Linked DNA regions of Homo sapiens. The protein of the gene in region 2 purifies or fractionates together with the protein of the main gene of each other region. This does not show direct contact. Each region holds a gene or a part of one and is shown on either strand. Other genes may lie near its edges.

Region 1 (3,756 bases), on a different chromosome or scaffold from region 2:
AGCTTTTTTCCAGTACTAGGAAGAGTCTATAATAGTTAACTGCCAAACTTCATCCAGATATATCTGTGGAACAGTGTCCTTGGGTAGTTCATAAAACTAGGACTCAAATGTTATGATTTAGAATCATCTGTCCCAAAGTATAAAACATATTAATCTGTGGTCAGTGATTAGTTAAAAATAATCAACAAAAGGGGTAATACATAGTTCCTGAATGATTCCCAAACAGTAATACATTTTTATTTGACACCTGGTACTCTCCATAGGTAGCCTTAAGATAGCTAAGATACATGTTGACCCTGTCAAAAGGTTAATCTTTTAGTGTCAAAGCTGAAGTTTAGCCACATCTATTTATTCTAGAAGGAACCCAGTATTTCTGCTCTGTTAATAACATAGAACAGATGGGGTGTCAGGAAAAAGTGGAGGTGGCATGGGATTCTGGTCCCAACTGCCAATAAAAATCACAATTTTTGGCCGGGCGCGGTGGCTCACGCCTGTAATCCCAGCACTTTGGGAGGCCGAGGCGGGCGGATCACGAGGTCAGGAGATCGAGACCATCCCGGCTAAAACGGTGAAACCCCGTCTCTACTAAAAATACAAAAAATTAGCCGGGCGTAGTGGCGGGCGCCTGTAGTCCCAGCTACTTGGGAGGCTGAGGCAGGAGAATGGCGTGAACCCGGGAGGCGGAGCTTGCAGTGAGCCGAGATCCCGCCACTGCACTCCAGCCTGGGCGACAGAGCGAGACTCTGTCTCAAAAGAAAAAAAAAAAAAAAAAAAAAAAAATCACAATTTTTAAATTGTGTTCATTTAAGGTGAAATAACATATTTTGTAAAATTATTAGTGATGATACAGTGCTTACAATAGCCTTTATGAAAAAAGTCAATAAAAAATATACACAAAGTCTATTTTATGTCCCAGTGATGCATATATGATTATTTCGAGCCCCTGAAACAAAGACAATTTTTTAAAGTAATAATAATAGCAAATGCTTAGTAGCACTTACAACATGCTAGGCCCTTTTCTAGGTACTTCACATATCATTAACTTAATCCTTAGAAGAATCTCATGAGAGAATACAATGATCCCCACTTTATAGTTGAAAATGAGGCATGGGGTATTAAAAAGACCAAGTTCCAGAGCTGTAAAGTGGCAAAACCAAGGTATGAACCAAGGGAATCTGGTTCCAAGTGCTAAACCACTATACTGTACTAAACATACCTGGATTATAGCTCCTTCCTAATAGTACCATTTCCACTATATACAAACACCTTGTTTCTACAAATAAACAATCTAAGGTAAAACTAGGAATACTACGATCATAAACTTCAGGAGAGTGTCCATTCTGGGAGAACAAAAGGTGGCTCTCTCCCTTTCCTCAAATAATTAATTCTACAAATTAGAGGAAAAAAGGAAAATGTCCCCAATGGACAAGTTGCCTCTCTAAACAGTCATATATTAGTTCATAAGTTGAGGATCTTCTGTGCTGTGTTTTTTTTCTCTTAGGTTCATCATTTATTTTCCATCTCAACTGCTTATGACTTGAGCTTTTGGATTTAAAAAACTGACTAATGACATGAATCTAAATTTTCTCTGCGTCTACTAATTGCCATTTCTTTTTGCTTCCCCTATTGCTTCTTGATTAATATTTAAAATAAGGGGTTTGTGTATATAGCAGAATTTGTTTCCAAATTTTTAAAATATCTTAAAATACTTATATGATGTGCTTATATCGTGACCCATTGGTTTAGAGAAAAAAAAAAAAAGAAATAAACCTGAATATTTACATATTTTGTAGATAATATTCTAGACAATACATTTAAGTTATAATAGCAACATCCTTGCCTTCCGGACTCTTCTATTTTGAAAAAGCCTGGTCTATATATGCTATAAATAATTCACTAAAATCAACTATAAAAAAATTTAGCCATATTAAGCCTATGACACATTATCTTCAGTTGGTGGTACTAGGATGTTTTCTCCTGCTTCCAGTATGCCCACTGCCTCCTTTACTACTACCCTCTAAACAGATGACTTTATCCACTGAGATCAAGGTCATCCAGAGGATGTAGCCTCTCATAAACTTTGTCAACCTGAAGTCGTGCATTTCATCTACAGCCAAAGATACCAACTACTACCAGTTCCCTCTTCTCCCACTTAGCCAACAAAAATCACATACCAGAAAGGTCTTGGGAAACATTTTCCAAACAGCAGGATATCAAATTTTCTGTTTTATTAAGCAAAAATAATTTTTTGATCACCCTTCAAGTTTTATCACATAATATAAATACAAACAACTTGGAAAAGCATCTTTCTATAAAAAGCTACACAATAGTTCCTTGGTTAGAATCTTCACAACAAAACAAAAGACAAAACTATAAATCTCAGAGCAAAGCCATATTTTTTCTTTGAAAAAAAAACCAACAAAACAAAACTGAGTAAGAGTCACATTATACACCAGTGTTCTATAAGAAAATTCCATAACCTAGAGAATTTAAAATTTAAAAAGTGATATTAATCAGACAATTTCCTAACAGCTGCTGATTACAAAGACTATTAAAATACACACCAACTTCATTAAAATCTTCAAAGGTGATTTTCCCTGTGGCTTCTCTGTCATAATCTTTAAGAATCTTCAGTACATCAGCTTTTTTTACATCAAACCCCAAGGCTCTCATTGCCACCTTTTGGATTAAAAAGGAAAAGCAAATTATAAAGCACTCTTTACAAAAGAATTTCTAATTATTAAGTTTTTACATCTTAAGAGATGACAACACATTAATAAAATATAACTTTTTTGCATGTTTTACCTCTTTAAAATAGCAGTGATAGTGTAATTGTTCTTCACTACTGAAATTAAGTATGCATAAGTTTTTTCATTTATAAATTGCATTTTTTATATGACAAAGTAACCAACAAGTGTTTACAGATTTTACTATATAAAATGCACTAACTTATTGCACAGATAATTTGATTGTTATTTGTTCTGAAGGGATTAACAATCAAAATGAGAAAAAGGCGTGGCATAAATATTAAACAGTTACATGATAGAAGAGATAAAACATTAAAACAAGAATTATCATCAGTCTTTCCATGATTAGTTACCAGGTAAATGATAGGGCTAAGGACCCTGAGTTTAGAGAAAAAAGAGATTTTGTTACTAATAATAAGGAAGGAGACATATTACTGACTAGAGAAGTCTTATTTGGAAAGATTCAAACTGTTCCTTGAAGGATAGATGAAGAGGAGCAGTAGGGTATTTGGGAAGGATGACTGGTATTAAAAGAAACACTGAAACGAATAGGTTCGAAGGACAATGAACAGAGCAGTTTACCTCACCTGAATTAGAAAAGTTCAGGTGAGGTAAACTGCTCACCTGAATTAGGAGGTGAATTCCACCTTAATTAGAAGAGTTCAGGAGGAAGAAAGCAGTTAGCAAATGAAAAAAGTAGTTGGTGGCAAAAGTGTAGAGAACATTCAGTAGAAAGCAAAGGAATCTGAACTTTAAGTAGTATACAATGAGGAGTTATGGTTTATGAGCAATGAACAATTTATGAGCAATGGTGAAAGAATTTTTAAACTATCTAAATTCAGTGGTAGTGTACAAGGTGAACTAGTAAGAAATCATTTAGGAAGCTCCAGGTATGAAATAAGGTCCCAAACCAAGATAGTCAATGGTTACAAATGGAACAGACATTATAAAGGAAGATCAAATCTGGGTAACCAAAAAAAAAAAAAAACAAAAAAAACAGTGGGAAAAG
Region 2 (3,111 bases):
GAACCCTCCCTGTCTCAAAAAATAATTTAAAAAAAAAAATAACAGAAAACAAGTTGCCTCTATAGGAGGGCCGAGCTCTGGTGAGGAAGTGTGAGACCAGTTTCCATAGCAACCCCAGTCTGTTTCTCAACAAGAGGTTCCAGCCAGCCTCTTGCCACATATGAGTCATAACTCAAGTGTTTTGTTTGTTTCCCTTGGATAAAAGTGACTCCGATTTTTAATGGCTCCTCTCAAAGATTAACATCTCTTCACTAAATACAGAAGAATTCCATATGTAATGAATTTCCAGCCTCCATGAAAACAAAATGGACTCTTTCATGCTGTCTCAACATATGAATACATTGCTCTGTCACCTGGGTGTTATTACCGACTTAAATCTGAAAGAAGCTGGGCACGGCAGTGGTGTGTGGGTGCCTGCAGTCCTGAGGAGCTGGGACTGTTTCCCGAACAATGCCTTTCCACCACACACGGTGGTTGTGAGGGCCAGCTGAGGCAAAGCCCTCAGGAAGACCACTCAAGCCCAGGAGTCCAGCCTGCGCAAGACAGTAAGACCCCTTAAAAAAAAAAAAATCTGAAAGAAAATATAGAGCCAAATCTTTAGATAAATGCTTTATTATTTTCTCAAAATGTTATAAAAGTCATTTCTCCTTAGTACAGAGAGCTTTATACATTTTATCTAGTAATGAATACAATCTAGTTTAACACTCATCTATTTTACTAACATTTCCTTAATTTTCAATTCGTATTTTTCCTTTTCTTTCCTGATTTTAGCTTTTTTTAGGCTTCTGTCACCACAAAATGTTACTTGGAAAACTAGATCCCAGCAGATGACCTGTACTTCTCTGCTCTCTCCCCTACTGCAAAGAGGCAGTGAGGGCAGCATTAGTAAGCCTGACTCAGGGGAAGGTAAGTGGCCTGCAGAGAAATGGTCCTAGGTCCGCAACCGAGGCGAGTGAACTTGTCGGACAGATGAAGACTCTAACTGGAAGAAACGATCAGCGCATTCACGGATGCACCACCATCCAGAAATCTCCCGGTGGCTTCCATACAAAAACTGATGTTTCTAAAGATGGAAAGAACAGGTCTAGGAGGCAGAAGAGTATCTCCTAGCAAAGTGTTCTGTAGCTCAAAGGGTGAGTGGGCTTTGGTAGCAAAAAGCTTTGAAGGCTTCACCCTGGGTGAATCTGACAAGGGCTGGAGCCAGACGGGACCTGCAGCACCTCCTCAGCTTGGCCTCGTCTCCCCTGACCCCGCCTCCGTGCATGCTGCCTCAGTTTGCCTTCTCAGCAGAGAAGCCCCCACCACCAGGGGCTGGGCATGCCCAGGGCAGGTGTGGGGCCTGTAGTGGGGCAGCAGCAACTGGTGGGTGCCCCTCTAGTGGGCGCTCAGCTCACAGCTGCTCAAATGGGAACAGGTGGGAAGCTGCTGCTTTCTTTTCCCTTTTGGTCTTCTTGGGCCCACCCTTCAGCTTCTGCTTTTCTTCATCTTCTCGGTTTTGAGGCCAGGAGGCAGCCAGTATCCTGGCCGCTTCTGCTTGAGAGCTGGTCCCCTCCTCTTCATCAGAAGAGAGTCCACCTCCTGCATCTGTGTGGGGAGCTGCTGCCTCACTCTGGACAGGTGGCAGTGGTGGGAGGACACAGGCGAGGGTTAGTAATCAGATACCAGGAAGCCCCATGAAGAGGCAGCAAGTTCCCAGCCTGCCCTAAGCTGTGTAACTCTGGGAGGACAAGGGCATGGGACAGGGCAGGGAGAGAGCCCAGACCCTTCTTACTGAGCCGTCCCAGCCTGGGGTGCATCCAAGCAGACACTGGAGCACCTGCTACGAGCTGAGTGCAGGGGAACACAAGGATGATGGCTGGGCAGGAAGCTGCCCTCTAGGAGCACACTGCCTCATCTGGGGATGCCTGTGATTCGTGCCTTGCATTTGCTACCTCATTTCTGGACCAAAGCACATGATGTCTTGAACGGGCAAGATGCACAGTTCAGCCCTCGGAGCCCTAAGATCTGAGGCGGCACTCCCTGCCAGCTGGGATGGCTAGGGAGGGTTTGGATGGAGAAGGCGGCAAGGAGCTGGTCAGAACATAAAGTCAGATGAAGGGCTTTTCTCCACCAGAGGGACTGGAATGAGGAGCGTGACAAAAAAATGTTGAAAGGCAAACAGGCAGCACAGAGGGTTGGAGAGAGGGAACAAAACATGCCAGAGCAGTTTCTGCTGTGTCTGACACAGCACTGACTATACCATGTAACTGGGCCTAGGGTCCATCTGCCCCAGGGAGGGGCCCCCTTGAGGGCTGCATGTCAAATTCACACCTGTGTCCAAGCCTGGCCTGGCACATGGCAGGTGCTGTGAGAGAGGTACTGAGCGGGCCACTGCAGGCCTGCAGCATGGTCACAGGCACTGGGAACACTGGAAGGCGGAAGGGTGCACCAAATGCAGGACACTTGGCCCTCCCTATGTGTTCAGCGCCAAATCAGACCCATGGCATTGCTCATGTGGACAGTAGAAACGGGGACACTGGGACAGGGCTTGGGGCAGAAGAGCCAGCTGAGGCCTCACTCCAGGGACACCTTTCCCAACAAGGTAAAAACAAGCGGCCTTAGAGACAGAAGACTGAGGTGTCCTAACACAAAGCTATCCCTGACTTGAGGCTGGGGCAGAATCTGGGCCAGGCCTTTCTGAGCTGCATCTCCAAGAAACTGACCCTGAGCTTGTCTTCTCTGCAAAGAACCTGCACTGACCTTGGGCCCGTAGCGACGCTTCAGCCTCTCCCTGATGAGCAGACCTTTGGCCAGCAACTTCCAGTTCCCTAGAGCCCGCTTCTCCTTTTTCTGCAGGCAAAAATGAAGTGGGAGAAAAGTGTTAAGCACTGACATTTTCAGGAAAAATATTAAGATGGAAACTGTGAATGTAAAGACAGATATATACACCACTTTAGAATATAGCCTCTCCTTCACACCAAGTCTCACTTCCAAAAAATTGATCTGATTTACAAAGTGATATACTATACCTGAAAGCCACAAAAACAGATAACTTTTTAATCGTTACTGACTCCAAAATCTTTAGTGGGTGAGGTCTTCCAGAACCTGGACACAGGCAATTCAAGACAGAGG

What was found.
Region 1: the proteins of XPC (region 2) and CETN3 purify together in Homo sapiens (affinity purification with mass spectrometry; 5 studies listed by BioGRID and IntAct, with this or other methods). This does not show direct contact.

What each region holds. Positions count from the first base shown.
Region 1 is NC_000005.10:90,403,121-90,406,876, forward strand, and holds part of CETN3 (centrin-3), read right to left. Parts: intron 2,680-3,756; coding exon 2,565-2,679; intron 1-2,564. UniProt on the Homo sapiens protein: Plays a fundamental role in microtubule-organizing center structure and function. As a component of the TREX-2 complex, involved in the export of mRNAs to the cytoplasm through the nuclear pores.
Region 2 is NC_000003.12:14,144,551-14,147,661, forward strand, and holds the end of XPC (DNA repair protein complementing XP-C cells), read right to left. Parts: exon of another isoform or gene 3,023-3,111; intron 2,830-3,022; coding exon 2,740-2,829; intron 1,610-2,739; coding exon 1,391-1,609; 3' UTR 597-1,390; downstream 1-596. UniProt on the Homo sapiens protein: Involved in global genome nucleotide excision repair (GG-NER) by acting as damage sensing and DNA-binding factor component of the XPC complex. Has only a low DNA repair activity by itself which is stimulated by RAD23B and RAD23A.